Regions from separate parts of the Homo sapiens genome. Here region 1 is linked to region 2. Evidence: fine-mapped expression QTL. A gene starts in region 2. The other region holds a variant in brackets. All regions are shown on one strand. Distances are from middle to middle. Region 1 has its middle 7.9 kb from the start of GNG7. Region 2 holds the start of SLC39A3 (solute carrier family 39 member 3).

What was found. PIP is the estimated chance that this variant, and not a neighbour inherited with it, causes the effect. A credible set is the group of variants that fine-mapping cannot tell apart.
Region 1: its variant is the best candidate, but not a certain one, in a credible set for the expression of SLC39A3 in monocytes after Pam3CSK4 (Quach 2016, PIP 0.52).

Annotation. Positions count from the first base shown.
Region 1 is chr19:2,708,360-2,712,744 of GRCh38, reverse strand. No RefSeq gene overlaps it. Among named protein-coding and RNA genes, the nearest start is that of GNG7, 7.9 kb to the right of the region's middle. RefSeq lists an enhancer at 2,175-2,254. The variant G/A (reference allele first, on the strand shown) is at 2,257.
Region 2 is chr19:2,737,679-2,742,063 of GRCh38, reverse strand. SLC39A3 (solute carrier family 39 member 3) reads left to right here and starts at 2,047. Exons shown (of 3, transcript NM_144564.5): 1 at 2,047-2,119. RefSeq lists enhancers at 1,766-1,815, 2,516-2,565 and silencers at 1,876-2,275, 2,684-2,951.

The sequences.
Region 1 (4,385 bases), 29 kb after region 2:
TGCCTGTAGTCCCAGCACTTTGGGAGGCCGAGAAGGGCATATTACCTGAGACCAGAAGTTTGAGACCAGCCTGGCTCACATGGCAAAACCCTGTCTCTACTAAAAATACAAAAAATTAGCTGGGCGTGGTGGCGGGAGTCTGTAATCCCAACTACTAGGGAGGCTGAGGCAGGAGGATCACTTGAACCCGGGAGGCGGAGCTTGCAGTGAGCTGAGATCGTGCCACTACACTCCAGCCTGGGTGACGAGAATGAAACTCTGTCCAACCCCCCGCCGCCCCACAAAAAGAAAAGAAATACCTGATACAGGTAAATGATAGAGAAAAGAGGTTTAATTGGCTCATAGTTCCACAGCCTGTGCAGGAAGCATGGCAGCAGCTGCTTCTGGGAGGCCTCAGGAAACTTACGGTCATGGGGGAAGGCAGAGGGGAGCAGGCAGGTCACTCGGCCGGAGCAGGAGCACAGGGGAGGAGGTGCCATACCGGATCTTGTGAGAACTCTATTATGAGACAGGACTGAGGGGTGGATCCATTCATGAGGATCCACCGTCATGATCCAGTCGCCTCCCATCAGGCACTACCTCCAACACGGGACTACAATTCAACATGAGATTTGGGTGGGGACAGAGAGCCAAACCATGTCAGGGGACCTTCCCTGCTTGTCCCATCTGCCAGCCCAGCCCCCACCCCTCACCCCTAACCCAGAGCAGGCTGGGGCAGGGATCTGACCTGAAGAGGTAAGGCGTTGTTCAGGACCAGACTGGAAGGAAGGAAGAGCTGAGACATCATTCATTCACGTATTCATTGGTTCATTCATTCATTCATTCATCCAGTATGTAAGAGGCACCACTCTATGCCTGGTCCTGCCCTGATGCTGGGGACACAGCAGTGACAGACACCAGCCCCAGAGCCCCCTGCCTGCTCAGAGAGCATAACCCACTGGGGACGATGATTCCCTATGAAGAAGTGGATCAAATCATCGCAGACACATGCTCCCTACGCAGAAGATAAACCTGCATCACAAAAGTGACGTGGCTGGGAGTCCCAGGCCTTCTGAGGTCTGACTCAGAAGCTGACGTGTTTGCTGATGTGGGAAGCGGGGGAGAGGCCAGCTCCAAGGGGACCTGGGACGGAGCACTGGACAGGGGGACCAGCAAAGGTGTCAAAGCAGGAACAGGTGAGGCCTGGCTGGGAGGAGTGGAGGGAGGAGAGGGAAGGTGGCCAGTGAAGTTGAAGGTCGCCAGCAGGGGTCAAACAGTGCCTGGTGGGCTGTGGGAAGAGTTTGGACTTTCACGAGAAGGATGCCAGGGGGTTACGGGAACATTTCAGCATTTCCCTCAAGAGACCTCGAGGGCCCCGCTGTACCGTGTACTTACCGCAGCTGGCTGAGGAGGTCGGACAGGCACTAAGAGCCCTATTTTACAAAGGCAGGAACCCACAGGACCTCAGCTTCCCTATCTGTGTAATGTGAATGTATGGTTGGAGTCTGGCTTGCCAGGATCCCAGGAGGCGGGAGAGGGCCGTGGTTAGTGATATGTCCTCCAGGTCAGATGTGAAGATGGTGGGATCCCAGCTGCAGCTGCAGGGAGCATAGCACCTGCCTGGGACCCCCTCCTCTATTTCTCCAAGTGACCATGGGTTTTGAGACACCCTCTTTTAAAAATTATTTTTTTTTTGAGACGGAGTCTTGCTCTGTCGCCCAGGCTGGAGTGCAGTGGTGTGATCTCGGCTTCAAACAATTCTCCTGCCCCAGCCTCCCGAGTAGCTGGGATTACAGACGCCCACAACCATGCCCGGCTAATTTTTGTGGTTTTAATAGAGATGGGGTTTCACCATGTTGGCCAGGCTGGTCTCAAACTTCTGACCTCAGGTGATCCACCTGCCTTGGCCTCCCAAAGCGCTGGGATTACAGGCATGAGACACCGTGCCTGGCCTTCATTGCAATTTTTAAAACGTTTTATTTATTAATAATTATTGATTCACGGGAAGGTACAAGGAGGTCTGATGCACCCTGCACCCAGCCCCCCAGCTATGTTTACATCTTGCATAACTGCAGTATAACCTCAAAACCAGCACAGTGGAAGGATGCAAGCTTCACTGGATTTGCATGCACTCATCTGAGTGTGTGAGTGTGTGTGTGGTTTATGCAGTTTTATCACACGCATAACTTCCTCTAAACACCGTCACGAGATACTTTTTTTTTTTTTTTTTGGTCAGGGTCTTGCTCCGTCGCCCAGGCTGGAATGGTGCAGTGGTGT[G/A]AACACAGCTCACTGCAGCCTCAATCTCTTGGGCTCAAGTGATCCTCCCACCTCAGCGCCCCCCGAGTAACTGAGTAGCTGGGACTACAGACACATGCACGTCACCACATGTGGCTAATTTTCTTTCTTTCTTTTTTTTTTGAGACGGGGTCTGGCTCTGTCGCCCAGGCTGGAGTGCAGTGGTGCGATCTCGGCTCACTGCAAGCTCCGCCTCCCAAGTTCACGCCATTCTCCTGCCTCAGCCTCCCGAGTAGCTGGGACTACAGGCGCCCGCCACCACGCCCGGCTAATTTTTTGTATTTTTAGTAGAGACGGGTTTCACCGTGTTAGCCAGGATGGTCTCAATCTCCTGACCTCGTGATCCGCCCACCTCGGCCTCCCAAAGTGCTGGGATTGCAGGAGTGAGCCAGCACGCCCGGCTAATTTTCTTATATATATATTTGTAGATATGGTGGGGGGGTCTTGCCATGTTGCCCAGAATGGTCTCGAACTCCTGGGCTCAACGGATCTTCCTGCTTCGGCCTCCCAAAGTGCTGGGATGACAGGTGTAAGCCACTGCACAAACAAGACACTTAAGCGACACCAAAGACTCCCTCGTGATATCCCTCCTAGCCACGCTAGCCACCCTCACTAATGCAATATGTATGTATTTGAGAGTCTTGCTCTGTTGCCCAAGCTGGAGTGCAGTGGCATGATCTCTGCTCACTGCAACCTCTACCTGCCAGGTTCAAGCAATTCTCCTGCCTCAGCCTCCCGAGTAGCCGGGATTATAGGCATGCACCACCACGGCCCAGCTAATTTTTATTTTTTGTATTATTAGTAGAGATGGGGGTCTCACTATGTTGGCCAGTCTGGTCTTGAACTCCTAGCCTCAAGCAATCCTCCCATCTTGGCCTTTCAAAGTGCTAGGATTACAGGCATGAGCCACTGCACCTGGTCCTAATGCAATATTTTTTTAAAAATTGACATGAGTACAAAAAATCTGCATTGAACAAAATTTTAAAGTCCCAAATAAAGACAGCATCCAACCTTCCCCTGAGAGCCTCAGGCAAAAGGAAAAATGTGTGCATGTGTACATATACCAAATATTTAAGCATCTTTACATATCTTTCTATTTTTTTGAGACTGTCTCAATTTGTTGTCCAGGCTGGAGTGCAGTGGTGCAGTCTCGGCTCACTGCAACCTCCTCCTTTCCAGTTCAAGCGATTCTCCTGCCTCATCCTCCAGAGTAGCTGGGACTACAGGTGTGTGCCACTGTGCCCATCTAATTTTCTTTTTTCTTTTCTTTTCTTTTTGTTTTTTTTGAGATGGAGTCTTGCTGTGTTGCCAGGCTGGAGTGCAGTGGCACGTCTCGGCTCACTGCAACCTCCGCCTCCCGGGTTCAAGCGATTCTCCTGCCTCAGCCTCCTGAGTAGCTGGGACTACAGGTGCGTGCCACCACACCCAGCTAATTTTTGTATTTTTAGTAGAGATGGGGTTTCACCATGTTGGCAAGGCTGGTCTCGATCTCTTGATCTCGTGATCCACCTGCCTTGGCCTCCCAAAGTGCTGGGATTACCGGCGTGAGCCACCGCGCCCGGCCCAGCACCTTTATATATCTGTATGCATTTTTAGTGGTTGATTTTTTCCAGAAGTAGATTTTGAAAATATGACTGATGATTTAGTAGGATTTGCTTCTACTAAAACTAGGACAGTAAAATTATAATAAAGTCTATTTGGACATAAAGAAACTTAATAATAACATTGTAAAAAGACACATGACATTGTGAGTTTGAATACAACATCTTTTCAATCCTTGAATACTTTCAACTGCTTTAGTGTTCTGGAAAAAAAGTAACCATTAAAAAATACAGGCTCATGCCTGTAATCCCAGCACTTTGGGAGGCTAAGGCAGGAGGATCACTTGAGCCCAGGAGTTCAAAACCAGCCTGGGCAAACTGGTAAGACCCTATCTCAAAAGAAAACATTAAAAAATATATAACTCTCTGGAAGAATATTTGGCAGTTTCTTCAAGAACAAATCATGCAGCTACCATATGACATAGCGATTGTGGTCCTGGTCATTTATCTCAGAGAAATGATTTATGTTCATACACAAACCCTTACAGGAATGTTAACGGCAGCTTTATT
Region 2 (4,385 bases):
ATTGTGGCTCATGCCTGTAATCTCAGCACTTTGGGAGGCTGAGGTGGGAGGGTTTCCTGAATCCAGGAGTTCAAGACTGGCCTGTGTGACATTAGGTAAAAAATTAGCTGGGCATGGTGGCACATGCTCCCAGCTACTCGGGAGGCTGAGGTGGGAGGACTGCTTGAGCCCAGGAGGTCATGGCTGCAGTGAGCTGTGATTGCACCACTGCACTCCAGCCTGGGTGATGGGGCAGGACCCTGTCTCAAAATACAAGCAAACAAACACAAAACTAAGTGGCTAGAACAGCATGTGTTATCTCAGTTTCTGTGGGTGAGGAATTCAGATGCAGTTCATATGGGTCTTCTGTTTTCAGGGTCTTTGTTTTTCTTTCTTTCTTCTTCTTCTTCTTCTTTTTTTTTCTTTTGAGACAGGGTCTCACTCTGTTGCCCAGGCTGGAGTGTAATGGTAATGATTTCAGCTCGCTGTCACCTCTGCCTCCTGGGTCCAAGTGATTCTGATGCCTCAGCCTCCTTAGTAGCTGGGACTACAGGTGCCCGCCACCATGCCTGGCTAATTTTGGTATTTTTAGTAGAGATGGGGTTTTGCCGTGTTGGCCAGGCTAGTCTCAAACTCCTGACTTTAAGTGACCTGCCTACCTCGGCCTTCCAAAGTGCTGGGATTATAGGCATGAGCTACCACATGCAGCCCTGTTTTAGGGTGTTTCAAAGGCTGCAATTGAAGTGAAGCAGTCATCCAAAGGCTCAACTGGGGCAGGACCCTCTTCCATGATCACGTTCATGGCTGTTGGTAGCATTTGGTTCCTTATGGACGCTTGTGCTGAGGGTCTCATTGCCTTGCTGACTGTTGGCTGGAGGACACCCTCAGTTCCTTTCCCTCTGGATCTCTCCAGCATCTTAGCTTGCTTTGTCAAGACACGTAGGCTGAGAAGGCGAGAGACAGGCTCTGCTGGCAAAACAGAAGTCACAATCTCTCATAGCCTAATCGCAGAATGACATCCCATTCATTTGCCATTTTCTATTTGTTAGAATCAAGTCATCAGGCCAAGCGCAGTGGCTCATGCCTGTAATCCCAGCACTTTGGGAGGCCAAGGTAAGAGGATCACCTGAGGTCAGGAGTTCAAGACCAGCCTGGCCAACATGGTGAAACCCCGTCTCTACTAAAAACACAAAAATTAGCCGGCATAGTGGCACACGCCTATAATCCCAGCTACTCGGGAGGCTGAGGCAGGAGAATCGCTTGAACACGGGAGTCGGAAGTTGCAGTGAGCCAAGATCGCGCCATTGCACTCCAGCCTGAGTGACAAGAGCGAGACTCTGTCTCAAAAAAAACCTTTTTTTTTTTTTTAGAGATGGGGTCTCACTATGCTGCCCAGGCTGGCCTTGAACTCCTGGACTCAAGCGATCCTCCCGCCTCGGTCTCTTAAAGTGCTGAGATTACAAGTGTGAGCCACTGCGCCCTGCCAAGATTTGGTTTTTAACTTACGCGTTACCTCCTATACTTATTTTTTCATGGTTTGAACATGTAACATCTACTTTCTTAGCAATTTTGCAGTATGCAATGCATTGTTACGAGCTGTAGCCACCATGATGTACAGTCGATCTCTTGGACTTACTCCTCCTGCCTATCAACAGAGATTTGTTGAAGGGATGAATCTGCTTCTTCAGCCGTCGGTAAGGGGATCAGCAGCGAGGACGCTGAGAGAGGAGCCGCCTCCGTTGGAAATCCCTTCCCATCCACCTCCAAGCCTCTTTCCAAGCGGGATTCAGCACCAGGCGCCCCTGGACAGCTCTGGAAACCCAACCCTGCCGGAACCGTTCCTCGCCAATCCGGGTTTCCCGCCGGGGCCGCTTGGTGGCTGCGCCCGCCGCTCAGCGGGAGGAAACCCCTTTCCTGTGCCGGTAGGAGAGGTGGAGTCGCATATGAGTGGCAGGTTTCGCAGCCAATAGTATGGAAAGTTCTGCCAGCGGGTCTCGGGGAGGCCAATGGGCAGGGGCGTGGGCGGGGCGTGGACCAGCCGCGCCGAGCGGGGCCTCTCCGGGCCGCGTCTGTGGGGTCGAGACTGCGCGGCCGTTGGGCGTGCAGCGGCGCCAGTCGGCGGACGAGGGGCCCCCGGGAGGTAGGTGCGGGCAGAGAGAGGACCTGGGGCGGCGGGGCGGGGCGGCGCTGAGCGGCCGGGGGTCTGTTGGACTCTACCCGCACGTTAGCCGAGGCCCGTCTCCGGTGCCCGGTAGCGCGAGGCACACAGAAGGCGCTCAATAAGTGCTGATTGAATGAATGAGCCCGTGCCCTCCTCATCCCGGCCCGAGCAGCCTCCGGTTTGAGAGCGTGCAGGCCACCCTCACCTTCACTGTACAGACTGAGGTATCCAGATGCCGGACAGGTCTTTATTGGGCGCCTACTGTGTGCCTGGGTGGCTCTGCGCTGGGTGCAGCTGGCCCTGAGCAAGACAGACAGCCTGGTCCCGCCCAGCTCACCGCCGGGGGGGAGGGACGACTTTAAATGACTTAAAATAATGTAATTCCTAGCTCCCTCTGTAGCACAAAATAAAAGAAAATAACACCAGGGAAGGGGGCGGGGAGAGCTCTGAGTGGAGACATCTGAGCAGTGACCCGAAGACCTGAATGCAGTGAGGTAGCGGGGCCATGAGGCGCTTGGGGCTGATGGTGGGGGAGAAAACCCAGTTGGGGAAAACTCAAGGACAGGGGAGGAGCTGAGATTCCTCCTAAGAACGGTGACATTTTGGGGTCCAGGGTGAAACCGACTTCACTTTGGCCCATTGCATCAGGTAAAATGCGGCCCTTATCAGTGGCCACACGCTTCCCCTCGTCCATGTGTTCAGCCAGCGGTTTTTGAGTATCTGTTCTGCAGCAGGCCTTCCGGCGGGTACAGGGATATGGTTTAGGGCAGGAGTCAGCCAGGGGCAGAGAGGGAGGCCCTTTTTTTTTTTTTTTTTTTTTTTTTGAGACGGAGTCTTGCTCTGCAGCCCAGGCTGGAGTACAATGGCGCGATCTCGGCTCACTGCAAGCTCCACCTCCTGGGTTGAAGCAATTCTCCTGCCTCAGCCTCCCGAGTAACTGGGATTACAGGCACGTACCACCATGCCCAGCTAATTTTTTTTTTTTTTGAGACAGAGTCTTACTCTGTCACCCAGGCTGGAGTGCAATGGCTTGATCTTGGCTCACTGCAACCTCCACCTCCTGGGTTCAAGTGATTCTCCTGCCTCAGCCTCCCAAGTAGCTGGGATTACAGGTGCCCACTACCACACCCAGCTAATTTTTGTATTTTTAGTAGAGACAGTGTTTCACTGTGTTGGCCAGGCTGGTCTTGAACTCTCGACCTCAGGTGCTGGTCTCGAACTCTCGACCTCAGGTGATCTGCCCACCTCAGCCTCCCAAAGTGCTGAGATTACAGGTGTGAGCCACCACTCCCAACCGAGGGAGGCCCTTTTGAGGGGTCCTGGATGCAGAGAAGCAAGAAAGAAGAAGGAGGCCTCGCTGGAAGGTCAGGGGAAAGAGAGCAGTGTTCCAGGTGGAGAGAGGAGAACCCATGCAGAGGTCCTGAGGCACGAGCAAGCTTGGCACAGAAAGGACCAGTGAGGGCCGAGGCGAGGCAGGAGCTTGTCATGCAGAGCTTCAGCCTCAGGGTACAGAGTTTAGACTTTATTTCGGGGCATGGGGAAGCCATGGACCACCACCATCCAATAGCATGTTCTGCAGTGATGAGAGTGTTCCCTTTGCTGTCAAATACGGTAACCACAGAAGTCAAGTAGGCTTGTGTGACTACTGAGCGCTTGAAATATGGCCAGGGAGACTGAGGAGCGGAATTTTGTATTTTATTTAGTTTTTTTTTTTTTTTTTTTTTGAGATGGAGTTTTGCTCTTGTTGCCCAGCCTGGAGTGCGGTGGTGCCATCTTGGCTCACTGCAACCTCTGCCTCCTGGGTTCAAGCGATTCTCTTGCCTCAGCCTCCAGAGTAGCTGGGATTACAGGTGCCTGCCACCACGGCCGGCTAATTTTTGTATTTTTGGTAGAGACGGCGTTTCACCATGTTGTCCAGGCTGGTCTCGAATTCCTGACCTCAGGTGATCCACCCACCTCGGCCTCCCAAAGTTCTGGGATTGCAGGTGTGAGCCACTACACCCAGCCTGGATTTTTTTTAATTTTGATGAACTTTTTTCTTTTTTTGAGACAGTGTATTAGTCAGGGTTCTCTAGAGGGACAGAACTAATGGAATAGTTATATATATAAAGGGAAGTTTATTAAGTATTAATTGCACACGATTACAGGGTCTCACAATACATTGTCTGCAGATTGAGGAGCAAAGAGAGCCAGTCCGAGTTCCAAAACTGAAGAACTGGCCAGGTGCAGTGGCTCACGCCTATAA